Regions from separate parts of the Homo sapiens genome. Here region 1 is linked to region 2. Evidence: fine-mapped QTL for protein levels in blood plasma. Region 2 holds a variant in brackets. A gene starts in the other region. All regions are shown on their forward strands.

Region 1 (15,559 bases), not on the chromosome of region 2:
TTTTTAGTAGAGACGGGGTTTCACCATGTTGGTCAGGCTGGTCTTAAACTCCTGAATTCAGGTGATCCACCCGCCTCGGCCTCCCAAAGTGTTGGGATTACAGGCATGAGCCACCATGCCAATGCTTTTTAAATTAAAATTATTTTGTAGACATTTTCCTGTGCTGTGAAATGTTCTCTAAACATCATGTTTTCTGATGGCTACATGCTGTTTTGTTAGATCTATATGTCAAAACATCACTTCAGTAAAGTTTTTAGGGAAAAAAGATATGCCAAAATATACACAATCAGTATCCTATTATGAAACATGGAGGTTTCCAATTTTCCACTTTCATAAATAAAGCTGTGATAACCATCTTTTTGTGTACATTTTGGAGTCACATCTCTGACTGTTTTCTTAAAGTAAATTTGTCAAAGTTAGAAATGCTAGGTCAAAAGGCACAGTCATGTTTCCAGGCGTTGGATATATCTGGTCAAATTAAATTTCAGAAAGGAAGTAAGTGAGTGTACAAGAGCCTCCACCTGCCCTGCCATAGACCTCTATTGTTTCGTCTGCCCAGCGTCTCTTCCTTTGGTGGAACCATTGCCTCCTGACTGCTGTCATTCTGGTTGGTTGCCAATCAGCAGGTACTTCTCCTATCAAAGCTGAGGGCACTGGATCCAGGTTACACCCACTGCACTCTTCTCCACCCCTAACTTGCCCACGCCTTCATTAGAGTCTTGAACAGATAAGCCAGTTCTCTAAACAGAACAGTCCAAAGCTCAGATGCTGTTGCTCACAGCCAAAGATCCTTAGTGGATATTCTTACTACATACAGGATATTAAAAAAATAAGTAAATAAAATCTTTGCTAACGGAAAACAATATTTCATTTTAATTTGTCTTCCTCTTCCTCTTAATACCCATGATGGTGAGCATTTCTTCATATTCGCATACTGACTGTATCCTTTCTCTGTGAATTGCCTGTTTTTGTATTTTGCTCATTTTTATTGGGGGTCCTTTTATTTTTGAGTTTTAAGAGCTGTTTATATATTAAGAATCTATTAACCTGTCATACACAAGGGGCAGTAGTGAACAGATGTATATTGGAGTTAGGCAGACCTAGTTTTGAATCTTGGTGCCATAGGCTCTATCTGTTTGACATTAATTTTGTAAAACCCCTGTTTATTTTTGTATACCAGTAGAGATAGAGATAATCATATACGTGTTATAGGATGGTTCTGAGAACTGAATGAGATAAACTTGATAAATGCTTTGATGCTATATTGCAAATATTTCTTTCCTCATTTTTGCTTAGTACCAAAGGATTAAATTTTGGGGTAATCAATTCAATCTTTTCATTCATATTTTCTCCTTTTATTTTTATGCTAAAAAGGCTTTTTGACTCTGATGTTAGATAAATATTCACTATATTTACTTGTTATTATTTTGTGATTTTTGAAAGACATGATAATTCTTTAATCTAGCTGAAGTTTATCTTGGTATAGAGCGTGAAATAGGAAATATCTTTTTTTTGTAAGTAATTAAGCAATTGTCCTATGATCATTTAGTGAATAATTTAAACTTTTGCCATTGATTAAGAATTAAAACTTTATCAATAACTTAAGTCTTATTGTAACAGGGGCTGTTTATGGGTTTTCATTTTTTTTCTTTTCCTTTTTTTTTTTTGAGATGGAGTCTCGCTCTGTCACCCAGGTTGGAGTGCAGTGGCATGATCTTGACTCACTGCAACCTCCACCTCTCGGGTTCAAGCAATTCTCCTGCCTCAGCCTCCTGAGTAGCTGGGATTACAGGCACATGCCACTACACCCAGCTAATTTTTGTATTTTTAGTAGAGACAGGGTTTCACCATGTTGGTCAAGCTCCTCTCAATCTCCTGACCTTGTGATCTGCCCGCTTCAGCCTCACAAAGTGCTGGGATTACAGACGTGAGCCACCGTGCCTTGCCCGTTCTTTTCTTTTGACTGTTTATTCTTATGCCAGCACAGACAAGCATGTATTGTGGGTTCAGTTCCTGACCACTGAAATAAAGAGAATATTGCAATAATATTTGGTTAGTTTTTATTTTTTGTAGAGATGCGGGGGGCGGGGGCCTTCCTATGTTGCCCAGGCTGGTCTCTAACTCCTGGACTCAAGTGATTCTCCCACCTTGGCCTCCCAAAATGCTGGGATTAAAGTGAGCCATGTGGATTTTTTGGTTTCCCAGTGTATCTAAAAGTTATGTTTGCACTATAGTGTAGTCTATTAAGTGCAAAATAGCATTTGTCTAAAATAAGTATGTACCTTAATTTAAAAATACTTTATTGCTAAAATATGCTAATAATCATGTAAGCCTTCAGTGAGTCATCATCATCTTTCTGCTGGCGGAGGGTCTTACCTTGATGTTGAGGCTGCTGAATGATCAGGGTAGTGGTTTCTGAAGGATAGGTTGACTGTGGCAATTTTAAAAAATCAGACAACTATGAAGTTTGCTGCATCCATGGACTCTTCCTTTTTTTCAACTTTCATTTTAGAATTAGGGGGTACATGTGCAGGTGTGATACAAAGGTATATTGTGAAAGATTTCTCTGTCACATATTGTGAAATACTATCAAACATGCAATGCTGTTTGATAATATTTTATACACTGTACATCCTCTTTCAAAATCAGAGTCATGGCATGGTGCAGTGGCTCATGCCTATAATCCCAGAGCTTTGGGAAGCCAAGGCAGGAGTATCACTTGAGCCCAAGAGTTTGAGACCAGCCTGGGCAATACAGTGAGGCTCTACCTTTACAAAAAATTAAAAAATTAGCTGGATGGTGGTGCATGCCTATATCCTACCCCCTCGGAAGGCTGAGGTAAGAGGATTGTTTGAGCTCAAGAGTTCAAGGTTACAGTAAGCTGTGATCATGCCACTGCACTCCAGTCTGGGCAACAGAGCAAGACCCTGTCTCTGAAAACAACAACAACAACAAACAGTTGGAATCAATTCTCTCAAACCCTGCTGTGTTATCGACTAAGTTTACATAATACTTTAAATTCTTGGTTTTGTCATTTCAGCAATGTTCACAGCATCTTTACTAGGGGTAGATTCTATCTCTCAAAACTACTTTCTTTGCCCATCCGTAAGAGGCAACACCTCATCCATTCAAGTTTTATCATAAGATTGTAGCAATTCAGTCACATCTTCAGGCTCCACTTTAATTCTAGTTCTTTTGCTATTTCCACCACATCTGCAGTGACGACTTCCTCAACTGAAGTCTTGAACCCCTCAAAGTCATTCATGAGGGTTGAAATCAACTTCTTCCATACTCCTATTCATGTTGATATTTTGACCTACTCCCATGAATCATGAATGTTCTTAATAGCAGTTAGACTGTGAGCCCTTTCCAGAAGGTTTTCAGTTTACTTTGCCCAGATCCATCAGAAGAATCACCATCTGTGGCAGCTATGAGATGTATTTCTTAAATAATGTATAGCCTTATGAGATGTATTTCTTAAATAATAAAACTTGAAAGTTAAAACTACTCCTTGATTTGCAGAATAGATGTTGTGTTAGCAGGCATGAAAATATTAATTGTCTTGTACATCTCTGTCAGAGCTCTTGGGCTATCAAATGCATTGTCAATAAGTAGAAATATTACAAAAGGAAAGTAGAAATTGTTTTTTTTTGTGAGCAGTAGGTCTTAACGGTGGGCTTAAAATATTCAGTAAACTATGCCGTAAATGGATGTGCTGTCATCCAGGCTGTGTTGTTCCACTTATAGAGCACAGGCAGAATAGATTTAGCATAATTCCTAAAGGCTCTAGGATTTTTGGAATAGTAAATGAGCATTGGCTTTAACTTAAAGTCACCAAATACACTAGTCCCTAATAAGAGAGTCAGCCTGTCCTTTGAAGCTTTGAAGCCAAGCATTGACTTCTCTCTAGCTATGAAATTCCTAAATGGCCTCTTCTTTCGATAAAAGACTGTTTCATCTACATTGAAAATCTGTTGTGTAGCGTAGCCACCTTCCTCAATTATCTTGTGTAGATCTTCTGGAGAACTTGCTGCAGCTTCTCCATCAGCACTTGCTGCTTTACTTTACACTTTTATGTTATGGAGATGGCTTCTTTCCTTAAATCTTGTGAACCGACCTCTGCTATCTTCAAACTTTTCTTACGCAGCTTCCTCACCTCTCAGCTTTCATAGAATTGAAAAAAGTTAGGGCCTTGCTCTGGATTAGGCTTTGGCTAAGGGGATGCTGTGGCTGTTTTGATTTTTTTATCCAAACCACTAACATTTTCTCCATATTAACAATAAGTCTGTTTCACTTACCATTTGTGTGTTTGCTGGAGTAGCTGTTTTAATTGCCTTCAATAACTTTTCCTTTGCATTCATAACTTGGCTAACTGGTAAAAGAGGCCTAGCTTTGGACCTTTCTTGGTTTTCAAACATGCCTTCCTCACTAAGGTTAATCATTTCTAGCTTTTTTTGATTTAAAGTGAGAGACATGACTCTTCTTTTCACTTAAACACTTAAAGGCCACTGTAAGATGATTAATTGGCCTCATTTCAGCATTGTTGTGTTCCAAGGGAGAGAAACAGAGAATGGCCGGTTGGGGGAGAAATCAGAACATATGTGACATTTATCGATCAAATTCACTGTCTTATGTGGGCACAGTTTATGGCACCCTGAGACAATTAGGAAAGTATCATCAAAGATCACTGATCACAGACCAACATAACAGATGTAATGATAATGAAAAAAATTGAAATATTGTGAATATTACCAAAATGTGACACAAAGACACATAGTGAGCACATGCTATAGGAAACATGCAGCCAATGTACTTGCTTGGTGCAGGGTTGCCACAAACCTTCAATTTGTAAAAAATGCAATGACTGCAAAGCACAATAAAACAAGGTATGCTTGTATTGTGGCTGTAATTGTTGTAGCTCCATAATATGTTTTAGTGACTGGTGGTATCCATTACCCTTCATTAGTCTACATTTTCAATTTTCCAGGTTACAAGTATTTTATTGTTCCATGTGAACCTAATGATCATTTTGTTAAGTTGCAAAAACAAACCCTTGTTTTTATCATAAAATGTTTTCAAAAATGCACAAAAGAACAGCAAATACTTTTATGGAGCCTACATACCCATCATCCAGATTCAACAATGAACCATTTTACAAGAATTCCTTCATGCATATCCCCACCCCTTTTTTGGCTGAAGTATTTTAAAGTAAATCCAACCGATCTTATACTTTACCTTTAAATACTTCAGTGTGCATCTCTAAAAACTAAGGACACTTTCTCACATAATGACAATCCTACTGTTACACCTAAGAAAATTAACTGCAGTTTCTTAACATCATCTAATATTCTATTTGCATCTTGTTTTTCTTATTGTCTCAAAAGTGACTCTATGGTTGTTGGTGCACATATTGCATTGGCTGTAATGTATCTGAAGTTTCTTTTAATCTAGAACAATCTCTCCAACTCTTTTTTATTCTCCTTTCCTCCCTCCTTCTTCTTCTTCATGCTATTGACTTGTTGAACAAAACAGACAAATTGTTCTTTAGAATGTCCCATGTTGCTTCCCTGTGATGTCTTTCATCTTCTTTGTCCTTCACATTTCCCATAGATGAATGCTAGCTGTAGAGGCTTGGTGAGGTTCATGCTCAACTGTCTTGGCAGGAGCCCTTCTTGAATGATGCTGTGTGTTTTGTGTTGCATCACCTCAGGAGGAACGGAGGTCCGCTTTACCCATTTTTAGCATTGTGGAGACAGATTAATGTGTTTTCGGTGTGTACCTGAATCCTCAAGTTGTAAACTTGTGTTTTCCCTCTTACAAACTGTAAATATACCACAGGGTGATGAAATGGCACCCTGTAAATATTCAGAAGCCATGGATAATCATTGCCAGAATCAATTATTTCATTAGGGTTTGCAAAACCCAGTGGGTTTTAATTTTAATTATATTTCAGGTATAAATTATGCTGACCAAGGTGAACACTTTGAGGAGGCTTCCTGCTTGGGGAAGAGCATATCTTTTAAAAAACATTTATTTATTTATTCTGTAGAAAAGTTTAGTCTATTTATCCAGATCTTTTAAAATGTCATTTAATAAAGTTTTAGGGTTTCCTTTCAGAAAATTTCTGTACATCTCTAGATTTATTTGTAGGTATTTTATATTTTATTCACTTTGATAATGTTGAATAGGATTTTTTTTTTTTACTATTAGGTTGTCTTAGCAGGTTTGGGCTGCTATAACAAATTACCATAGACTGGGTGGATTATAAACAGCAAATATTTATTTCTTACAGTTCTAGAGGCTGGGAAGTCCAAGATCAAGGCACCAGCAGATTCAGCATCTGGTGAGGACCAGTTTCTCTTCTCTGACAGTGCCTTCTAGCTGTGATCACACATTGCAGAAGGGCAAGGCAGCTCTTTGGGGTCTCTTATAAGGGCACTGGTTTCATTCATGAGGGGTCCATTCATGAGCATTAGGGAGGAGCACCAGGTAGAGAGGGAAAGTACCGTCCCTGGGGTCTGGACTTTTTGTGACTCTTCCCTCTTTTTGGGGAAAAGGACTTCAAGCTCAGGTTTTCTTTGGTGGGGTTGGGTATTGCTTCTTCCATATTCCAAGTCTCAGGACCCTCAGGGGCAGGTGCCAAGTGAGAGTGACCCCCAGAGGTAGAAAGGACCCAGCATCATTTCTGAGGACACCTGGTAGAGGAGGAGCCTGGACACTTGGCCTCCCATCCTGGCTCAGGGTATGGCCTTGACACATCTTCATCCTTGTTTCCTCCTTTGGACAATGGAGATGTTCAGACTAGGTGGTCTCTGAGGGCCCTGCCAGCTTTAGCCATCCCTCCCCACACCAGCTAAAGGGACTAATTCCTCCGAACTTTCATGGGTCAGATAGAGGCAGGGAAGGGACAGCCCCAGCCCTGGGAGGCAGGTCTCCTTACCTTCTTCCAGTTCCTTCACAGGAATCACACACTTGAAGCCACAGTGCAGGTAACAACACTTCCTTTCCCCCAGACAGTCCTGGTCTGTGTGACACTGGGGAGGATCGGACTTGAAGCAGCGTACGTTGTCAGCTGGGCAAACCCCTGCTTTCTCTATACCTAGTGGAGGAAGCCACAAGGTGATATGAGAACTCCAGCCCCAGAGGGCCCCTCAGGACCTCTCCCCAGCCCAGCCCCACCCAGCTCCACCATGTCTGCTCACCCTCTTTAACTCCTTCCACAGCCACCAGGGTCACAAGAACGAGAGACACCATGAGGACCAAGAAGCTGCTGGACCCCATGTTGCCAGGCAGGTGCTTGGCTGGGAGCTGGGCTGAGCCTGGCTTTATAGTGTTCCTGCTGGGCATGCCAGTGGGTGGAGCTGAAGGCTCAAAATGGCAAGGGAGGCTGCACTTCCCAGCTCTATTTGGAAATGGCCCCTTCTGAGGAGGGACTTGGGGCTTTCCCTAAGGCTCTGCACTGGAATAGATGAAGAAATCCAAGAGCGACCCTCGTTCTTCACACGAGGAGAAGAAATGGACACGTGATTGACCATTAGGCGCCACCAGGGCCAAACTATCTTATGGAAGGAGGAAAAGAAGCACAGAAAGGGCATGAAATTACTCAAGTTCACACACGAGGCAGTGGCAGGGCCAGACTTCCTCAACTCCACCGTGTTCTCTATCAGTCCCTCTTCATGCCTGATTCACCTGGGACCAAAATCTTCCCTCCTTCCTGTGCTGCCCCGGACTTGTTCTCAGTTCTCACCTCACCCCAAGGAAGAATCTGAATGGCAGTGCTTAAAATGTCTGTCCTGAACATTCACTCTCAGCCTTGCGCTCCAGCACCGTGTGCTCCTGCCCCCCGCCAATCTCATGTGGCCTGGAGGAAAGCAGATTTTGGACCTGTCACCAGCTGTGTGACTTTGAAAGCAGCTTCACCTTTCTAAGCCTCCGTTTCCTCATTCATACAATGAGCATAATAATTATACTGTATCATCTTCATAGGATTTGTTTTCCCTCCTCTGCCCCTGCATCCCCCAAATTCCTGGATTTGGAAGAAGACATGGACGTGTGTGCGTGTGTGTGTGTGTGTGTGTGTGTGTGTGTGTGTGACCAGGCTTTTGGGGTCCTTTCTTTGAATGAGTACTAAAGGGAGGAAAATCCTTCCTGTTGGAAAAGTTGCAGATATAAGCCCAGAAACTCCAGAAATTTGGTCCTGGCCCTGGTGAGAGAGAAATTCTGAGAAGATAAATCTAAGATGCTGATAAAAAGAGATGAGAGATGGACAGGGAGTAATTTAGAGGATATCTAGTCCTTCACTAAACTTTTTCCTGAGATCAGCCCCACTCATACCCAGGGTTATGTTACCACCCAATACATTCACCTTTCTGCCTAAGCTGGTCTGAATTGGATTTCTGTCATTTACTAACAGGACCCCTGAGTAATGCAAAGATTTGGGTTTGGGGTGTTCCACATCCTGAAGTGTGGAAGGGACTGAGTTGGGGTTAAGTGGAGGCAGGGAGGATACCTCCATTCCTGGAAGTGAGCCTACTCCTTATTAGGTGGTGAATCTTTGGTTACAATCTCACCAGTCATATCACTGGACTCAGATCATTTGGATACCAGGGATGGAATCTGGGAAGTTCATAAACAAATACTAGAATGTTGGAATGTATTGGCTATTTCCTCCTCCACCTTTTTATTATGAACTTTTTAAACATACAGAAAAATTGAAATAACAGAACAATGATACTTGTATACCTACAACTGGATTTAACAATTATTAATAGTTTGGGATATTTTAGAATACCTATAGCTACATTTGTTGAAATATTTGAAATGAAATTGAATACATTATGTTCCTATTTCCTAAATACATCAGCATGCAAATTCTAAGAATAAGGATATTCTTCAATATAATCACAAAGCCATTATCATATCTAAGATAATTAATAGTTTCTGCATGTCATCTCATAGCCAGTTCATATTTGTTTCTCCGGTTCTCCCCAAAATGTCATTTGTAATTGACTGTTGATGATACTTCTTTAAAAAAAGTATTGTAAAATAAATCCTACATATGAAAGAATGTAATCAACATTCTATACCTTTTGAAAAAGAATAATAAACACCTATGAACCTATCAATTTAGAATAGGACATTACCATCCCTACTTCAGAGGTAACCACTATCTTGAACTTTCTGTTAATCATCCTCATGTTTTCCTTTAAAGTTTTGCTCTCTTGCTATGGCTTGCTTAGTGATACGTGTTGTTTAATTTCGTGTAAGCGTAATTATGGCCTAAGTATTCTTTTGTATTTTGCATGCTTTGCTCAACACCGTGTTTTTTTAAAAAATTGTGGTAAGAAATATATACTATAAGACATGACCTCTTAACATATTTTTAAGTGCATACTAACAGTATTGTTAATTGTGGGCACAGTGTCATACAGTAGGTCTCTAGAACTTTTTCATCTTGCATGACTGAAACCCACTGAATAGCAACTCCCTATTCCCCCCACCCCCAGACCCTTGGAACCACCATTCTGTTTTCTGCTTCTATAAGTGACTACTTTAGACACTTCATAAAAGTGGAATTATGCCATATTTGTCCTTTTGTGACTGGCTTATTTTGCTTAGCATAATGTCCTTGAGGTTCACCCATGTTGTAGCATGAGATAGACTTTTCTTCTTTTTTATGGCTGAATAATATTCCATGGTATGCATATATATGTACATGTATATAATCTTTTTCCTTCCCTCATTTATCTGTCAATGGGTCAATGCACATTTAGGTTTCCATTTCTTGGCTATTGTGAATATTGCAGCAATGAACTTGCAGGTGCAAATATCTCTTTGGGATCCTGATTTAAATTCTTTTGGATAAATACCCAGAAGGGGGATTGCTGGATCATGTGATAGCTCTATTTTTAATTTTTTGAAGAACTTCCATACTGTTTTCCGTAGTGGCTATACTCCTTTAAATTCTCACTGACAGTGCACAAGGGTTCCAAATTCTCCACATTCTCACCGGTACTTGTTTTCTTTTTCTTTTCTTTTTAAAATAAAAGCCATCCTAACAGGTATGAGGTGATCTTATGGTTTGATTTTCATTTTCCTGATGATTAGACATGTTGAGTATCTTTTCACATACCTGTTGGCCATTTGTATATCTTCTTTGGAGAAATGTCTGTTTAAGTCTTATTCACTTTTAATTGGGTCTTTATATTTATATGTGTGTGTATATATATATATATATGCATATGTACACACACATATATATAATGAAAAAGAAAAGAAATAAGTATTAGAATGGGAGACGAGAAAAGCCATTGTTTGCAAATGATGCAATAATAAAAACACAAAAGAAACTACAGATACATCATGAGTTAGACAATTTTTCAAGATTAGCTGACACAAAAATCAATATATAAAAGTCAGCTGCTTTCTATACACTAGAAATATTGGTTAGAAAAATGTAATACGTTAAAAGCAATAACATGTAAAATATTTAGTAATAAAGGCAACCTGTGAGATGGGAAAAATATTTGCAAACTACCTACCAGATAAGGGGTTAATTTTCAAAATATATAAAGAACTGCAACTCAATAGCAAAAATATGTTTACATATATATATACATATATACATAGCAAAAATATGTTTATATATGTATATATATAAATACATTTAGGCTTACATTTAGGTTTCCTAGAAACCTAGACTGTCTAGGAAGCAAGCCCCATAAGGAACTTCTCATATTCATATTATAAGAAGGTAAAATTGCAGGGGACAATGTTCCTGTTTTGTAGTAGTAAACTACCTTCTCAAAAGGTGGTTATTTTGTCCCCAGGGGACTTTGGCAATGTCTGGAGACATATTTGATTGTCACAACTGGGACAGATGTGCTTCTCACATCCAGTGTCTAGAGGCTGAGGTTGCTGCTAAATATCTAACAATGCACAAGACAGCTTTTCACAACAAACAATGATCTGTCTCCAAGTGCCAATAGTATTGATGTTGAGAAACGCTGCTGTCCTGCCTCACTGACTAATAGCTGTGCATGGCCTCAGAACACCTCAATGTAGGCTGAAGCGAGTAATGATGGGAGTGTCTGCTGGGAGTATCCCATGCTTAGGAGTGCTGATCCTTGGCTCACTGGTTTCACCCAGTAAAGGCATTCCTTAGCCCATGCCATGTGACCTTGTGGAATTCATCCCATGTTCTGCTGAATCAGGTTAATAAAGTTCCCTTTTAATTCTAGTTAGCTAAGAGTTTTTCTCATGAAAGGATGTTGAATTTTTATCAAATGCCTTTTCTTCATCAATTGAAATAAATATATGGATTGTCTCTTCAATCTGTTATTTTGTGAATTACATTAACCAGATTTCACATTCATTGTCTTTTTTGGGCATCATTTATTTATGTGCTTCAAGAAAGTGGAAAGCCTTGAACCAAAATGGCGGAGTCTAAGACAGGGAATGAAAGGGAAGATATATTTCTCATAAACGTGGAATATATATTCCTGAAAATCATTAGGTTACAGAGTTTTGCTCACTACAAATAATAGGGCTTCTGGAAAAAATAGAGTTGAAGTAGAACATTCAATATTTGTGCAGTCTCATAAGTAATACATCAAACAAACAGAACCCACACCCAATAAAAACATGACCACAGTGTTAAACATCTTCAGTTCCTAATAAAGAAATTATGTAGTAAATGTAGCACTTTACTTTGACAAAAGATGGGGAGTTTGCTTGGTAAGTGGGTATGGTGAAATACTGTGGCTTTTGAGGTATGTACAAAAGGTGGAATGAAGGACATCATCATTCTTGGGACTAAATGTTGTTATACTGGAGGGTCATTGTCGTCAATCTTTTACTTCTGTACTGGCTTAAAACAGCAATCCGCTTCGTTGATTTGCCAGTTCCTCCCTTTTGTAAGGAAGCTGTATAACTCTAAATGAAACTGGATAACTGCAAAGTTCTATGCTGATGCTCTTGACATTAAAATCTTGATCTTTGGCTGGGCGTGGTGGCTCACGCCTGTACTCCCAGAACTTTGGGAGGCCAAGCCGGGCGGATCACTTGAGGTCAGGAGTTCAAGACAAGCCAGCCAACATGGTGAAACACTGTCTCCACTGAAAATACAAAAATTAGCTGGGTGTGGTAGTACATGCCTGTAATCCCAGCTACTTGGGAGGCTGAGGCATGAGAATCATTTGAATCCAGGAGGCAGAGGTTGCAGCGAGCTGAGATCACACCACTGCACTCCAGCCTGGACAACAGAGCGAGACTTTGTCTCAAAAAAACAAAAAACAAAACAAAACAAAAAAACTTGACCTTTAATCCACTACAATTGTTTATCAATATCACTTGAAGCTGATAGTAACTGATGTGTTAGGCTCACTAGCGGTCTCATCTCTGACGGAGTGCAACATTTAGCTTATTGCTGTGGTGAATAGCATATGCTCTCATTTATTCAAAAATATTTTATTATTTCAAACTTCTCAGTATTTAAGACATTTCTTTTATTTATTTATTTTTACATTTTTATTAATTTATTTTTTTAGATGGAGTCTCCCTTTGTCACCCAGGCTGGAGTGCAGTGGTGCAATCTCTGCTCACTGCAACCTCTGCTTCCTGGGTTCAAGAGATTCTCCTGCCTCAAGCTCCCAAGTAGCTGGGGCTACAAGCTGGCTAACTTTTGTATTTTTAGTAGAGATGGGGTTTCACCATCTTGGCTAGTCTGCTCTCAAACTCCTGATCTCAGGTGATCCACCCCCGTCAGCCTCCCAAAGTGCTGGGAATACAGGCATGAGCCACAATGCCTGGCCTTCAGGCATTTCTTTTAAAATCATGTTTCAGATTCTTGTTTCCAGGACATTGAACACAGTATTAAATACTTCTATCAAGAAGAGGATAGAACTCAGGATAACAGCACATCACGCACTTGGTAGGGCAATGACTATAGGTAAACTGAGATAAGAGGGAGGAGATGAAGTGTTTGTTATTTTGTGTGTCACTCAAGAGATACCATGTTCAATATTTTTGCATTCGATTTGTTTTATATGACAGGACAAGGCATAGTCACCTTATGAAAAACTGTATTAACCCAATTTTACATGTTAGTGATTTAATTCCTTATTTATCTACCATGTATGAACATATTCTGCTTGTTAAAGCACTTGCTTCAGCAGGAGAGACTCGTGGGTGTGTGTGTGTGTGTGTGTGTCTGTGTGTGTGTATATCTTTATATTAATGAGAGGTGACATCACAGTAATCTTTGCCTTGACAGTGTGCCTGACTGAATAGTATAAGCTGAATTAATGCCCTTGTTAGAAATTGTGGGATCCCAAAATATTTAATGCCTAAAAATCAGGAAATGATCATCTGAACCCCTTCTCCACCTTCCACTGAGCCAGACAAAGGTGCAAATGCTTCCTTAAAGGAAGATCAACCAGGAAGAAGTTATGCCTATTCTTTAGCTACTTTTTCCCTAGTTTTAAAGATATGAAATTCTATTTAAAGTATTATCACAATAATATATGTACACAGTATAAAATGTAAAGTGTAAAACCAGGTTTACAATGGGAATCTCCTACATTGCTCCTATTTACCTTGATTCCTGATACCCAGAGGTCCTGATACCAGAGGTAAACACTTTTAGCTCTTCTAGCTGTTTCTAATATTTATCTCCATGTTTCTAAATAACATTCTGATGTATTATTAATGTTCTTACATTTGTATTCTAAATTGTGTATTATATAATTTTCTTAAATTTCTGAAAAATTTAAATTTGGATTTAAAAAAATTATTTTCTTGTGGTAAGAACACTTAGCATGAGATCTACCCTCGTAACACCTTTTTAAGTGTGTAGTACCATATTAACTCTAGGCACTATGTTGTACAGCAGATCTCTAGAACTTTTTCATCTTGCATAACTGAAACTTTACCCACTGAACAACAATCCCCCATTTCCCCCTTCCTGAAACCCTTGGAAACCACCATCATACTTTTTGCTTAAATAAGTTTGACTACTTTAGACAACTCACGTAAGATTATAAAAGTGGAACTGTGAAATAGTTGTCCTTCTGTGACTGGCTTATTTTGCTTAGCATAGTGTCTTCAAGGTTCATCCACGTTGTAGCATAATGAAAAGATTTCCCTCTTTTTTGGCTATTCAAATTCCATGATATGTAAATACCACATTTTCTTTACCGCATTCACCTGTCAATAAACTTTTAGTTTGTTTCCACCTCCTGGCCATTGTGAATAATACTGCAGTAAACATGGGAGTGATCAAGGATGTTGGTAAACATCCCAGAACGTACCAGACAGCCTCCCACAACAAAAAAATTGTCCATCCCCAATGTCAATAGTGCCAAGGTTGGGACTCTCTGTCCTAATCCAAGCTATTGCAGTATTTCTTATCTGGGTCACAGAAATAACTTGATAACTCGTCTTCCCACTGACAAACCACACATTCTCCAGAATGATCACATAAAACACATATTAGTTCTTGAGTGTTTGCTGTTTGACTTTATCATATTCTATTCCATCTCAAGGCTTCTGTAAATACAGGTCCCTTTGCTGGAACATGTCTTCTTCTTCACCTCTTGCTCTTTGACCACAACTTGGCTAAGTTTTTCATATTCTTCAAGTCTCAGCTTCCATGATGCTACATCAAAGAAGTCTTTTTCACCCTCCCTTTTAATTTTTCTCAGAGCAGATAGTTTTATGCATAGTTTATTTATATTTGTACTCAAATTTGCCACAGTTTGTAATGACGTATGTATCTGTGATTTTCTTTAGTCGAGAGAAAATTGTCAAAATTATTTTCCATCACTCCTGATACCTTAATGTGTATTTCCCTCAAAGATATCCTCTGTTGTGACCACAATACAACCATGAACATCAGGAAATTAACACTGATACATTCTTGTCCTCTAATAGCCCCAACTCAAGTTTTACCATCATAATGAGAATACTTAAAATCTACTATCTTAGCAGTTTTCAAAAGTACACAATATTGTTATTAACCATATTCATCATGCTGTACAATTGATATCTTGAATTTATTCTTCCTATCTAACTGAAATTTTGTATTCTTTGACCAACATCTCCCCACACTCCCCTTCCCCCCAGCCCCTGCTAATCACAATCTATTCTCTTCTTTTATGAGTTCAACTTTTTAGATTCCACATATAAGTGAGATCATGCAGAATGTGTCTTTCTGTGCCTAGCTTATTTCATTTAACATAATGCCATCCAGGTTCATCCATTTGTAACATATGACAAAGTTTTGTTCTTTTTTTAAGGCTAAAGAGTATTTCATTGTGTATATATACATTCTCTTGATCTATTCATCCATTTTTGCATGCTTATGTTGATTCCATATTTTAGCTATTGTGAAAAATACTGCAATGAACATGGAAGTGCAGATATCTCTTCAAAATACTGATTTTAATTCCTTTGGATATGTAACTAGTAGTGGGATTGCTGGATTATATTTTAGTTCTATTTTTAATTATTTGAAGAACTTCCATAGTATTTTCCATAATGACTGTAAAAATTTACATTC
Region 2 (15,559 bases):
AAAAAAAAATGACAATCACAATCAGACAAGGCATAAGGTCTAGCTCTGCTCCCATACATTTACACTTTACCAAGTTAGTAAAGTAAGAATAAAGTTTATTCAATCTAAAATCCACATACTGGCTATGCTGAACTCATTACTCAGGTTGATATGGTACAAGTAACCAAGAAACTTATCTATACTTATGAAAAAATCAAAATAATTCCACTTTTCTATTGTTAGTCAGGTAATGATACAATGAAAAGGATCTTTCTTCTTTTGTATAGGGGCAAAGGAAATTAACTGGAAATAGAAAATTAAGCATAGTAAAGCTAAAATTAAGACAAGGGGAAAAAGATCTCCCTCCTCTCATACTTTTCAACTTTACTTAAATCCAAGAATAGCAATGGTCACTATAAATGCCATATTCCTTCAAATTTTGAGAGTTTTATGGAATTCTTCATTTGTATTCAGAAAGTAAAAGAAAATTAACAGGAATGAGTCCTGAAGATCTGCTCTAATTGAACGGGAATATAGATGTGGAAAATTCATACTTGCCTGCAATCTGCCAATGGCCACTAGGCAAAACTTGCTTCCCTGGCCAGCCTCTGGGTCATCATCTGGGAGGGAAACACCTTCAGAAACGTGACGTTAAAAGGTTTAACGGGGACCTCCAACTCAAATGCCTTCAAAACTCAGACAAGTAAAGATTCAAAATAGACCTATTTATGGGCCAGGCACCGTGGCTGACGCCTGTAATCCCAACACTTTGGGAAGCCAAGGTGGGCGGATCACTTGAGGACCAGCCTGGCCGACACAGTGAAACCCCATCTCTACTAAAAATACAAAAATTAGCCAGGCATGGTGGCATGCACCTGTAATCCCAGCTACTTGGGAGGCTGAGGTGAGAGAATCACTTGAACCCAGGAGGCGGAGGATGCAGTGAGCCGAGATCGCACTACTGCACTCCAGCCTGGGCGACAGACAGAGTGAGACTCCCTCTCAAAAAAAAAACCAAAAAGCAAAACAAAACAAAATACATCTAGTTATGAAGAGGCTAAGCATAAAGCAATAGAGAATGATAAATAAGAATAAACAAGTATATAAAACTTACCATATATGCCAGTCATTGTTTTAAGTATTTACATATATATTAATTCCTACATTTTACCCATGTTAATTATAGTAAACTGGAAAATACAAGTCCTACCCAGAGTACTCTAAAAAACTATGCTGGCCAAATATGGCACATATGAAGACATCCATTCTATGACCATGTTATAGGCAGAAAATTTATGCTTTGCCTAATCTGTAACTTTTAAAGTTAGCAAGCAACCCAAAATGAAGTTATACCAACCATCAATAGTTATTCATGTCCCTTGGAAAAGAGAAAAACCAATGTTTTACACAGAAAGGGAAGAAGACTGCATTTCTCCCCTGTTTTTTGCATAGTTATACTCTTTTTATCCAGAAAAATAGTATTCCTTGATGCTACATAGAGGTATGAAAGATCACATACTTTAACTGTGTGGCTTATATAGTATATAGACTAAGTAGTTCAAATGTCATTACTACTTCAGTTAAATTTTTTTAAATTACATTAATTACTTTTATTGGGTTACCTGCCATATGCCAGGCACTGGGCTGGATGCTTTCCTTACATTAAATCTAATCCTCACAAAAACCCTATACAGGATGTACTAACTCTGAATTACAGATGAGAAAACTGAGCTTTATAAAGGTCAAGCAACTTACCCTAGGTGATGCCACTAATAAGTAACAATGACAGGAATCACATCCAGGTTTCTCCACATCCAAAGTTTAACCTTTTTCCAAAACACATCACCTTGCTTCTCTTTTCTCTTAGTTTCTGTCTCCCCAAAACCCCTACTTTCCAATAATACCCAGGCAGCAGGGAAGTAATAAAGTTGCTAAGATTTGGAAACTCTGACAAGCCAACTTAAAACTTTGATCCTGCAACCCAATCACCTTTCTCACATTCCTTGTTTGACCTCAAGTTCTGGTAAAGCTAATCTGCTCAAAGCTTGATTTAAAGTCTTTGCAGAGAATATCCTCTTGATAAGTTATTACAATAAAGGCATTTTCCCCTTTTCTCTCAAAGTCTTGTTCCTACTTTAGAAATCTTTCTCAAATTAACTGCATTCAATGTCTAAGTTTCTTTGCAACAAATGCTTAGAATACATATGTTCAGTATAAATTTGTTCACATAAAAACCACATTCTGTGACACAGCCAATACTGAATCATTTTCCAGCCTGAGTTATCTATCTCCTCAACTGGAATAAAAGCTCAATAATGGAAGGGAAGGATTGTACATTTTCTTTTCCTATTTTCTTTCATCTTACACAAAAGTACATTTCATATACCAGGTATATAATAAATATTAGCTTTCATGGACTCTGTGAGGAACCAACTGTACCAAGGGGAAATATTTACTATTTCACTTTCTTACCTGCTGGGGGCCAGGCCTTGATGTAGCCTGTGCAGTGGACCACCACGAAGTGAGGTTCCCCATCCTTTACAGAGCCAAGTCCATTCCTAGAAGAGTTACAGGAGTTTGAAAAAAAAAAAAAAAATCTACCCGTAAAACTCAAAGGGCAATGCTGCCTTAGTACTTTTAAGTTTATGCTCTTAGGAGTTTAGAAAACAGGATAATCATCTTTCCCACCCAAAAATGACCGCCACATTTTTACCCTTGCCAAAGTAAAGTAACCAAAAGGTATGCAGTAGGAGGAAAGTAGGTAAAATAGCATAGCGACTTCCTTAAACAGGATTTTCAAGAGAAGTTTTAGAAGTTTAGGAAAATATTGCCAGAAAAAAAGTAAGTGGGAGGTAAGGGATGTTAAGTGGGAGGTAAGGGATGCAAGTGAGAGCTGCTGAAGGAACGACTACAGTAAGACAGGTAAAAATGTGATGATCTCTGCAGGTATTTGGCCATCCCTTTGGTTTTCACCACTTAGGATCTCACCTGCATCTGTTCCTCACAAAGCTCAGCCTATTCACAGAAACTGGGTCCACAGAGCTACTGCCACACCTGTTTCAAGGAATAAAGAGATTAAAAGCAATCAGACTGCCCTATCAAAGAACTTTCCACAGTAATAGCAGAATAACATGCTCTGGATACAACCAGACATAGAAAATTGGTAATGCTACTAATAATGAAGGATAAAGATAGGTCAAGTTTAGTATTTCTAAAACTTTTAGAATTTGAAGTCAAAATGTTCCATATGTTCTTCATATGCAAACATTCTCAACATCAAGAGTTGGCAAGCTTTTTCTGTAAAGGACCAGATAGTACATATTTTCAGCTTTGCGGGCCAGAAAGTCTGTTGCAACTAGTCAACTCTAGCATTATAGCATGAAAATAGCCATAGATAATATGTAAAAATATGGGCATGGCTATGTTCCAATAAAACTTTATTTACAAATAAAGGGCTGTGGTTTGCTTACTCCTGCTCTACATTAACCACAACTTAATGTAATTGCTACAGTTCATTATTATCTTGCTCTTGCCTATGTCTTTGCATTAGCCATGTCCACATATTGGGATACTCCTGCCAATGCTACTTTCCCTCTCCCTATCCTTTAAAACAAAAATAAAACTTACATAGGGTTAATATGTGTCATGCTCTGTTCTAAATATCTTTACATATATTAATTCATCTAATCTTCATAACAACTTTATAAAGTCAGTATTAACATTATCGCCAATGTGAGATGATGAAATCAAAGCACAATGTAGTCATGTAATCATCCAAGGTTTCAGAAGATAGCATCAAAGCTAGAATTCAAATCCATAGAATATGGATTAAAACAAAATCCAGCAGTCTGGGTCTAGAAGCTACTCTAAATTACACGCTGGGTGCAGTGGTTCAGGCCTGTAATCTCAGCACTTTGGGAGGCTGACGCAGGCGAATCACTTGAGGTCAAGAGTTTGAGGCCAGCCTGGCCAACATGGTGAAACACTGTTTTACTAAAAATACAAAAATTAGCCAGCTGTGGTGGCAATCCAGCTACTCAGGAAACTGAGGCATGAGAATCGCTTGAACCCAGGAGGTAGAGGTTGTAATGACCCAAGATCATGCCACTGCACTCCAGCCTGGGCAACAGAGCAAGACTCTGTCTCAAAAAAATAAATAAATAAAAATAAAAATAAATCACTAAACCACATAATGTTCAATTTTGTGCCTCTCCAAGCAAACCTTTAATATCCTACCCATAATTTCTAGCAACTATCCTCTCAGTACAATGTAGTCAATTTCCATTATATAGCCTGAACTTTGTGACCCTGAGATGCCTTTTGTACCTGTATAGAAAGGACCACCATATTTTCTACAGAATCCTAAAACGTACAGTATATAATTTATAAACACTAAACACCTACTGAAAGACATAGGAAGTCTCAAATTTCTAACCAAAAAAAAAAAGAAGAAATGGTCTGAGTAAATGGATATTGCCTTGTGTTGTAACAGGGAAAAAGTAGAGGTTTTGTAGTCAGACTACTATGAATTAAAACAAAATCCTGTATCAAACAGTATGTAACAGTGGGAAATTCATTTCTTTTTCTTTTTCTTTTTTTTTTTTTTGAGACAGAGTTTCACTCTTTTTGCCTAGGCTGGAGTGTAATGGCACAATCTCGGCTCACTGCAACCTCCACCTCCTGGGTTCAAGCAATTGTCCTGCCTCAGCCTCCAAGTGGCTGGGATTATGGGCGCACGCCACCACGCCCGTCTAATTTTGTTGTTGTTTTTTTTTAGTAGAGATGGGGTTTCACCATGTTGGCCAGGCTGGTCTCAAACTCCTGACCTCAGGTGATCCACTCGCCTCAGCCTCCTAAAGTGCTGGGATTACAGCCTTGAGCCACTGCACCTGGCCAAGTTCATTTCTTTATATCTGTTTTTCCATCTGCAAAATGGTAACCATCAATCTTACACTACAAGGCAATTGTGAGGATAAAATAAGATGACAGATATAAAGCACCTATCATAGTGTCTGGCAAGTTCAGAAACGTTAGTTCCCTTTCCAAATACTTTATTCTGTGTTACAATCCATCTGGGTATGGAGAGTTAAATTTAATCCACTGGAGCTAATCCAACTTAACTCTGACAGAAATAAAACTCTCAGCTCTTGATCCTTCCTATACCAAATCACAATCCTCAGCTTGACACTCACCTCATTCGGCAAATAAACGATCTCCTTGAGCCCATACACATTCTCATGGAAGACTGCTGACCTTCCTTTTTCACTGTTCCAGTCTTTAGATCCAGGATACGCCCTGAAGGAAGATGTGAAGAGCAGTCTGGAGTGCATTTTTGTGTGTGGGGAAGAGGGGGAGAGATACTGAAGGCAAAGATAAGTAAGCATCCTATTCATGCCCTTAATCTCCTTGCTTATAACAGAACTGACCAAGCAGGAGATGAATTTTTTTTCAAGCCTAAAATACTTCAATTATCATCAATGAATCTCACTCTTAAGTTCAAAGGCAGCATTGAAAATAACATTGTGCAAGGAAAAGTAGGAGTGGAAAGTAGTAGTAGAAAACAAGAGGCAAGGCTATATTCTCATAGCTGATTATCTGTATACACATACAGACATACATACAGAGTAAATGTCATTGGTTGAAAAACAAGTACTTTTCTGTAGTCCCAGCTAATCAGGAGGCTGAGGCAGGAGGACTGCTTGAGGGCAGGAGTTTGAGGCTGTAGTGTGCTATGACTGTGCCTGTGAAGAGTCACTGTACTCTAGCCTCAGCAATAAAGCAAGACCTTGTCTCAAAAAAAAAAAAAAGAATAAAAAGAAAAAATTTTAAAAAGAAAAAAACCAAGTAATTTTATATGTTATAGAAACATATAGATCTGTTTGTCTTCTTTATTATACAGAAACGAAGAACAACTTTTGGGGAAAAGGAAGAACTAGAAAAATGAAATCATAAAAACATAAAGGAGGGGAAAACTGGTCAAGTGTGGTGGCTCATGCCGATAATCCCAGCCCTTTGAGAAGCCAAGATGGGAGGAGGAATGCTGAAGGCCAGGAGTTTGAGACCAGTCTGGGCAACAGACAGAACCTGTCTCTACAAAAAATTTAAAAATTGGTCAAGTGTGGTGACATGAACTACTCCTAGCTACTCAAGAAGCTGTAAGCAGGCAGATTACTGAGCCCAGAAGAGTTCAAGATTACAGTAAGCTATGATGTGCCACCGTACTCCAGCCTAGGCAAGAGAGAGACCCTGTCTCTTTTTTGGGTGGGAAAAAAGGAGGAAAACTAAAGATCAACAACACTAATATGAGTATATTGAAATTTCTTGCATTTTAACTACCAGTTTTTTTATCTGCTTCCACTTTAAATTTTTTTCTAGAGTTGCTCAAGAATAGATATGACTTGTTTCCTCTAGCCAAACTCTGGCCAAAAGACTGAACATAATAAAATAGGGGAGAAAAAAAGAACAACAGTACAGATACAAACAACAACAACAACAACAACAGAAAACACCTTATACATTGACCAATAACCATATCTATAGAATAAAAAGCTGTTATCATTGAACCTAGCACAAAGCCAAGCACCAGGAGGTAGAAAAAATACCAGATAATTATCCATACAAATGAGATAAAAACATGGATAATTCTTTTAGAACGGAAAAAAAAAAGTATTGTAGGTTTGGCTTTTACTGTTCTATTTATACCAATATTAAGATAAATGTAAAATATTATCACCAATGAAATATTTTCTAAGGCTGAGCCACAAAGTAGATAATCTCATATGGATAAAAAGAACTGACTATATTCATTAAAGTAGAAAATTCTTGAAGCCTTGCCAGAGTCAACAAACCAATTTAACAGCTAAAACATCTCTTAAGTCTCAGGAAAAAAACAAGAAAGGACTTCTCATTCATTTCCCATACACATAACTCTCACCTGTCAGGGCATTTTCTGAAGTGGAAAGCTGCTCACGAAGTTTATCCACATCATCTGGGTGCACCTGATCATAGAGTGTGCTGCCAAACCATTCAGACTGTGGCTGGTTCAAAACAGGAGTCACGGAGTCAGACACATACACCACCCTGCCTGTCTCACATGAGACAATAAACAGAAAGCCATCTGCTGCCTCCAAGATCAAATGTTTCAGTTCCTGCGCAAGAAAAAGAAATAGAAGTTAATATTTTACTCTGAAAAAACAAGTATTTCTATTCAC[A/G]GGAAGAAGTAAGACACTTCAGGCCACATGCATCTCTCCGTAAGCAACTGCTGGTTCACACCTGATCCACAGCCACAGGTTTCCACCCTAAATGTAGTTCATCGATAAGAAAGTTTTTTCTAATACATGTTTCCTCACTTTCTCTATGTCACTATCCACCTCTTCCTCTCTATCTCAGGATTCAAGAAGAATAAAAAGGCTTGGGCTAGGCACAGCGGCTCCCGCCGGTAATCCCAGCACTTTGGGAGGTCAAAGTGGGAGGGTCACTGAGTCCAGGAGTTCAAGACCAGCCTAGGCAATGGGGCGAAACTCCATCTTTACAAACAAACAAAACAAAACAAAACAAAAACAAAAACAAAACTAGCCAGGTGTGGTGGCACACGCCTGTAGTCCCAGCTACTCCGGAGGCTGAGGTGGGAGGATCACCTGAGCCTGGGAAGCAGAGGTTGCAGTGAGCCGAGATCATACCACCACACTCCAGCCTGAGCGACAGAGCAAGAGACCCTGTCTCAAAAAAAAAAAGGCTTACCATGAACAATAATTGACTTCTTAATTCCATCCTCTCTGGTCTCTTTTTAGGATCTTGCTTGACAAATATTCCCACTTTCTCTCTTTCCCTTCAGGCCTATAAAAATGATCAAGTTTTCTCAATTCTAGATAAATCTTCCCTCAGTTTGACCCACCTCATCTCTCTTTTTCAGCAGCAAGCTTATACTAAGAATAATGTTATATTCACTGGCTTTATCCTCTTACCTTTCAATTATTTCTCAATCCCACTTCACTCTCACTCTAAACTACTGTTTTCCTGTTTGGTTTGGTTTTTGTTCTGCCAGGAACAGCATACATATATTTTTAATGAGGTTACTAATGTCCTCCTAATTACCAATTCAAGTCCCTTTTCCTGGGTCTTCATCACTTTATTCAACCTCTCTGCAGAATGTGACAATGTCGTCCATCTTATCCTTTAAATTTTATTTTTCCCTACCTTCTTCTATGAGACTGTACTCCAATTTTTGCTTCCTCTTCTGTTTCAGACTTCCTTTCCTTTGTTCAAGTCTTAAATGTAGACATTTCCAAAGTTCATCTTAAGCCCTCTTTATTAATACCATACTTTCTTCCTGGGAAACCATATTCACTCTTCCCCACTACGAAATAATAACCAAGTCTATAGCCCTAGACATGACTAACGTTTTTTCCTGAGCTTTCAGCAGACTTGAATTTCAAGTATCTGTAAAATATTTATAAATATTCTACCAGCAACTCAACATCAACATCCCAAAACCTGAATCATTATTTCCCTCTTAAAAAAAAAAACCTGCCGTGCTCTTCCAATATTCTTAACAGCATCCTCCTAAGCTAGAAGCCTCAAAATCTAACTATTCTCTCACATTCCAGTGATAATTCAGTTTTATCGATTCTACTTTCCAATGCTTTGTCACTGTCCTAGTCATCTTTTACCAAAACTAATTAAGTAGTCGCCCTGCTTTCAATCAATCCTTAAAATGCTACCAGATCTAATACATTTTTTATGTCTCCCCACTGCATAAAAATTAAAATCTAAATTCTTTAACACCTAAACATTCCATCATTAGATCCCAGCCTACCTTCCTATTATCTACCAAAAACATGCTAAACCACTTGACTTTCTTTGCATAACCCAATTATTCCACACTTCTAGGTTTTTGCTCAAGTGCTTCCCAAAATCCACAACACTACTCCCCAACTCATTTTCCATATCTGCATTTTACAGGATTCATTACAGCACTTCTATTATAGAACTAGTTCTATGTTTAATTTATTTATTTACATGTCTGTTTCCACCAGAAAACCATTTGTCTCACCATTCTTTCTATTTCTCACAGCACAACACACCTGGTTTGCCCACAAAAGGTGCATAACTGGAGTCTGTTGAATACTTGCACATGTACTGTTAGAACATATTAACTATTTCAATGTATATAGCTACAAAGTATGTAGTTTTAAGTAGACCATCCTATTTGGAAAATTCTTATTCCATTTTCTCAAACTATATTCTCTCCTTCTTTCTAATCATTTGATTAAATTGGTGGCATTAAGGGAATACTTGATTGATACTGAAGTAAATTTTTTTCTTCCTTATACCTCCTACATTTTCCAAATTTTTCTGCAATGATCATGTTATTTTAATAACCAAAACAGAACATGGCTTCCTTACCCTCAGAAGTCTTCCCTAACCATCCTCACTCAAGTCTAGCCATTCTATTCACTTTAGCCATCCCTTCAGTATGTCTATCTAGTCCCACATAAAATTACTAATTAAAAAATACAATTCCTCTCTTTATGCATTTTCCTGTTATTTTCTGTGATATCCTGCCACTCACATACTTATATTCAGATGAAGTTCCTGAAAGGCAGAAAATGTTTACGCCTTCTTTTTTTCATAGTGATCACATGTAACAGAGCACATCCCTAAGCAACAATTAGACTCTCAGTTCTTCTATCACCAAAGGTGGGACAGATTCATTCTATTACTAAAACTAGAAGCTGCTTCAGGGATAAGAAATAGATTTCTTCCATCTTCTATAACCCTAAAGGCAAGAAAGAAAATTGGTTCCATGGACATAGTCATTTCCTCTGTGATTCCACTGTTCTTCTTCCATCCTATATGCTATATTCATGAGTCAAGTTCTCAAATATTAATACTTATTAGCTTATTAAATAGTTTTCACAACTCTTCTCTACTTCTCATTGTCCCAATGCTAATTAATGTTATAGCCAAGGATTGAAATTCGTTTTCCCATTGTCTGACTTCTTCCTGAAAAGCTGAATTCTTGTCCAAAAAACGAAAACTTTCAAGAGATTCACCCAGATTCCAGACTCTCTCAGAACTATAAGTCCCAGAGACCTGATCAGTGAGGAAAGACGGCTTATAGGAGCCATCAGTGGATGTGTTGCCAGTTCCCCGCAAGGACTTCATGTGAGAAACTGCCATGCGTAAGATGGTTAGCTTGTCTGGTTTTCGAGCCAGGGCACTACAGGTGGGTACCATATCTGACAGTTCTGTGATGTAGGCTGTCATCTTGTTCCGTCGCCGCCGTTCAATTTCACTGTGATTTTCCCTGCATGGAAAGAAAGAGAAGCCCCATCCAGGTGGTCACATCTGGTCATTTGGTAGCAGGGAGAGTGATATGGATACCAAGTGTGCTGCTGAAGAATGTGGTATTCAGATTTAGTGATGCTTAAGTCTCAGCAGTTAAAATAAGGTTTGCCAACCTTCTCATGCAAAGCAAGCATGAAACAGAACTAATAAGGCAGACAGAGAACAAGAAGATAATGTAATTCCCTTCCCCCTATTTCCTGGAAACTTCACATCCTTTGTAAATTACCACTCCCTCAGAACAAAAGCTGTTTTAAGAAACGACAGGTCAGGCATGGTGGCTCATGCCTGTAATCCCAGCACTTTGGGAGATGGAGGCAGGTGGATTACTTGAGGCCAGGAGTTTGAGACCGGCCTGGCCAACATGGTGAAATCCTGTCTCTACTAAAAATACAAAAATTAGCAGGGCACAGTGGCATGCATCTGTAATCCCAGCTACTTGGGAGGCTGAGACAGGAGAATCACTTGAATCTGGGAGGTGGAGGTTGCAGTGAGCTGAGATCACACCACTGCACTTCAGCCTGGGTGGCAGAGCAAGACTCCATTTCAAAAAAAAACAAAAAACAAAAAACAAGAGAAAAAAAAAGATAGTATTTTTAAATGCTGATTTTACTCACTTAAGTTCCTATGGAACATATAACCTCAGCTTGGTTAACTCCCATGCTTACTAATTCAACTATTTAAAGGCCAGAAAATAAAAGGACCAATTTTTGCCAACTCAAGTATGTGGCTCCATAGCTGATACAAGAATTGATAGTACAGATTTCCTTGGTCTATAAAATATGGTAAGCCTCTCTCTTATTTGCAACATTAAAAGGCAGAATTTGAAGATTTTGAAGTTTTATTTGGCCCATTAATGCACAAAGTCCTACCTTCTTTATCTGGGTGTGCTGCCAGTGCACTAAACTTCTTACAAGACTTAAGATACACCATCTACTAAAAGTCCCATATGGGTCCCCAGTCTGGGACGAAGTTAACTGGAGGAGTGGAATGGAGAGGAGGATGATTAAAGGTCTGACAAGACAATTTGAATCTCACCCAGGTAAATAGACCACAGCTCCAACACTGACTTCCTCAAAATTAAGACAGAAAGATATCACTGTTAACAGGAATAATCCAGCAGTTTTCCAACAGGAATTTTTAAAAGCCCATTAAGTTTCTCAGTGTCCTCCATGGGGATGCCTCAAGGAGATAATCATGCAACATGCTGCATTTCTGCTTCTACTCAAATATTTGCCTTATCTCTCTTCTTCTTTTTTTTTTTTTTTTTTTTTGAGATGGAGTCTTGCTCTGTCACCCAGGCTGGAGTACAGTGGCGGGATCTCGGCTCACTGCAACCTCCGCCTTCTGGGTTCAAGCAATTCTGCTATCTCAGCCTCCCAGGTAGCTGGGACTACAGGCGCACACCACCACGCCCAGTTTTTTTTTTTTTTATTTTTAGTAGAGACGCGGTTTCACCAAGTTGGCCAGGATATTCTCCATCTCTTGACCTCGTGATCTGCCTGCCTCGGCCTCCCAAAGTGCTAGGGTTACAAGCATGAGCCACTGCGCCCGGCCTGCTTTATCTCTTTTATTTATTTCTGTTACCACTTAAGAATTCTACTTGAACAAAAGTTCTTTGTCCAAAAAAAAAAGAAAGTAAGAAAATTAAAAATCTAACATAAATCTCTTTTTTCTGAGAAGAGCAAAGGGAGGTCAAGTAGGTAAGTGACTTTCCCCAGGCTGCTCTCTTCCCAATACAATGTTTTCTCCACCACATCATGCCAAATCCATTTTCTGAACAGTGAAAGGGTTAGTAAGAAGCTCGAGTTAAACTGGCAGCAAAATGAGTTTGTGACCCAGATTAAAGAGGAAATAGTAGAAAAAAGGGGGAATATAGTAAAAATGGGTATTGGCATCAATGATCTATTTCCTAAGTCACCCCCAAATCACAGATACTAGAAAACAGAAAAGTCTATGCATATTTCTTCTGCAGCATTTCTACATTACAAACAACAGTCTCCCAAGAGAATTCTAGAGTCTCCTTTCTAAATGGCAAAAAGGGTCTCACCACATAGGCCCATATTTAGTTACACTTTGCCTAAGACATAAAATTCTATTCTCAAACATAAAGCACTCATCTTCCTAGTATCTGACAGATTTCTGACACGTAAGTACAGAAACCTGGTCTTTTAAATAGCCACATCAAGGAAACTAAAACTTTTCTAGAAAACTACCGCAAGAAAGGATTCGGTCACCAAAGCAACACTAGTTCTGTTGTGAGAATAATCTAGGCTGTGAGTCTTCATAGGAAAATAGGTGTGAGTTTCCTAGAGGTGTGGAGTAAATGCTGAGGCCTAAATACTGGGAACTAATCACAAATACAGATATATTTATTGGTTTTCTGATAAAAAGAGTATTTCCCTGTTAAAGCACCAACTGGCACGGTTGCATTCCTTCTAAGAGCTTTTTGTTCTGTGAAACTTAGTACTGACATAAAGAGAAAAAGAAAAAAAAACTTAAAACTAATAGCAATTTCTTAAATCCCTAAGCAAAGTTCCCTCAACTCACCCACTTTCTGATGGGGGAAGCCAAAGTTCCTGTTACACTCAAACTTCTAAAAAATCTTGTCCTCTCTTGCCACAGATAAGGAAAAATACAAAGAGAAAGGGGAAGAAAAGAAAGAGTAAGAAAAAGGATAGAAAAAGCAGCATCATCTGCTTCATCATGCTAAAAGACACTGTTCTCCTACCTGGCAAGTCTCTCTTTATCCGCAGAGCTCTGCTCATCATCCGACCTAAAAATAGAATTAATGAACTAAGCTAAAATTAAAATAAAAAAGAAGGAAGGAAGGGGGGAGGGAGGAAGGGAAAAAAGGAAGGAGGGAGGGAGAGGAAATGGAGGGAGAAAAAAAAAGAAAAGGAGAAAGAAGAGAGAAAAGGATATAGAACTAAACAGATGCAGAGAAGAGAGGAGGGAAATGGAATTATAGGCAGGAACCTTGCCTGTAACTCTACAAAGCCATCTGTTAGGATAAAGAAAAAGTAACTTACAAGATAAAGGTCAACATAAAAGCAAAGCCAATATATAGTAAATTAACATGATCTAAACACAGAAAGCATTTTGCCAATCGATCTCTGTAGGGACCAAAGATATACAGAGTCTGAACAAGAACCAACCAAGGGAATTCAGGAATACCATTTTCATGCACTGCTCCCAATCTGGAAAGAAAATGATATCCACATGTGCTATTCTATAATGAAGAAATTAAAGACAGAGTACATTAAAGATGATACTATCAAACAAGTGATGACAAATATAATCTCTCTCCCTCTCACACAAACAACACATGCACGTGCCACACAATGACAAAATAACCAACCAGATTTCACTGGAGAAATTATATAAATAACTCTAAGAGGTAGGTTTCTGGCATATCTTCTATTATTGATTTGTTCCTAAAATAATTATTAACTTTGATTCGGTCCTTTTGCCATTTCTCTGCAGTATAGCCACACAGGAATGGATCAAAAGTAACAATTCCCTCTCCACTGGAGAAGGATACAAAGAACCATCACTAAATTTTTCTAGAAAACTGAGATACTGTAATGATGGGTGGCAACTGAGGAAATAGCAAGGTGTTGGCAGGCCATTGTGTCAGGAATGTGTCAATTCCATTTTAAATATATTTATATAGATAAAGAGGCCCTGAATAAAATGTCTAAGTATGACAGGTTAACAAGCTAAAAGATTATTTAGCTATTAAAAATGACAAATACAATAACCTTATCAATATATGGGAATGTTTTTATAAAATGGTCAATAGGCAGAAAATAACACAGTAACAATGAAGAAGAATGTAAAAATTTACGCATATATTCTGATGACAAGAGAAGGAGAACTGAGTGATATTCAGCAGTTTAGAGTTTTACATTCCTTGGGTTATTTCTTCTAGATAGTTCCTTAACAAACTACAAACTTCTTTTTTTTCAAAAAGTTGAGCAACTTTTGCCTCTGCCTCCCAAAGTGCTGGAATTACAGGCATAAGCCACCACTCCCGGCCTCTTACTGTCATTTTTAAAAGAACAGGACTAACCAGGCATGGTGGCTATGCATATAATCCCAAAAGTTTTTCAAGAAGTTTTCAGCTTTTAAGACCCTCTATATCCCAAGGAGGATATGTGAGGGGCACTACCTTAACACATCATATGAATGAATTCTGTTATTTAAAAAAAAGTTAAGCATCTAAAATTCCTATTTCTACTACTACTACTACTACAGATCCACAATCCCTAATCCACCTCAGTATTTCTGAATGAAATATATGCACATTAAGCAGGACAAATGAAAACCAAAATCATTCATGCGATGTTTTCATGGCTTTTTGAAATTTCATCAAGATACTGCCAATAATAACTGATGGCCTGACTTTTCAATGAAGCTTGAAAAACTATCCTCCAAATATCTATGATTAACTTCTCATTTTAGAGATGGTTCACATCCTAAAGACTTTACAAATATTTATTTCAATTAGTTTCGATAAACAAATTATTCTTCAAAAACCTCTTAACTTCACTCCTTTCCTGTTACCACTGCCACTGTAACCCAGGCCCTCATGATTTTATAGCTGTCTTATTATTTCAACAGCTTCCTATCTACCTCCCTACAGTCTAACAGTCCATCCCTTTAATCAATTCTATAACTGCTACCAGAGAAATATCCCTACAATGCATTTTATGTAATACCCTCTAATTCAAAGCCTGAGATTGCATCTCACCACTCCAGAATAGTTTTTAACTACTTCCCCTGATATTTCTAATCTCTCTACATCAACGGTTCTTAAAGTATGTTCCCGAGACCAGGAGCATCAGCAACGAACAAATACTAAGTGCTAAGTGCTCAGTTAATCACTGGATTTTGAAATAACGAATTATTCATCTTTCTGAGGTAGCTACAAACTTAATTTTCAAAAAAGAAATAATTTATTGCCTAATATTTAATAAAAACTTTCTAAAAAGAAAACTGACATTTAAGAATTTAATAAAAAAAAGTATATTTCATCATCTTGATAGGTAATTTAAACAAATTTAAGTTTTTTTCAATCAAAACTCTACTTGTCACAAAAACTGTTTCCTTACTGTCTTTTTTTTTTTTTTCTGACACAAAATCTTGCTGTCACCCAGGCTGGAGTGCAATGGTGCCATCTCTGCTCACTGCAACCTCCACCTCCCGGGCTCATGCAATTCTCATGCCT

Direction of the effects. Alleles are on the strand shown, and positions count from the first base shown. The strength of an association depends on the size of the effect and on how common the allele is.
For the plasma level of the protein whose gene starts at base 7,299 in region 1, A is the low allele of the variant in region 2 and G is the other (moderate association).

What was found. PIP is the posterior inclusion probability: the model's chance that the variant is causal. The UK Biobank Pharma Proteomics Project read protein levels with antibody pairs (Olink). The fine-mapping took linkage between variants from a reference panel, not from the people measured, so its PIPs are less certain.
Region 1: it holds the start of WFDC12, and the variant in region 2 is fine-mapped to the plasma level of the WFDC12 protein (UK Biobank, PIP above 0.99).

The regions. Positions count from the first base shown.
Region 1 is chr20:45,117,167-45,132,725 of GRCh38, forward strand. WFDC12 (WAP four-disulfide core domain 12) reads right to left here and starts at 7,299. Exons shown (of 3, transcript NM_080869.2): 1 at 7,203-7,299; 2 at 6,941-7,099; 3 at 6,259-6,777. The coding sequence starts at 7,281. The coding sequence ends at 6,680.
Region 2 is chr1:150,829,367-150,844,925 of GRCh38, forward strand. ARNT (aryl hydrocarbon receptor nuclear translocator) reads right to left here. Exons shown (of 22, transcript NM_001668.4): 5 at 13,058-13,102; 6 at 10,075-10,288; 7 at 6,914-7,127; 8 at 5,172-5,274; 9 at 2,968-3,033; 10 at 2,452-2,537; 11 at 538-614. Among named protein-coding and RNA genes, the nearest start is that of CTSK, 29 kb to the left of the region's middle. RefSeq lists an enhancer at 6,975-7,119 and a cis regulatory region at 7,047. The variant A/G (reference allele first, on the strand shown) is at 7,191.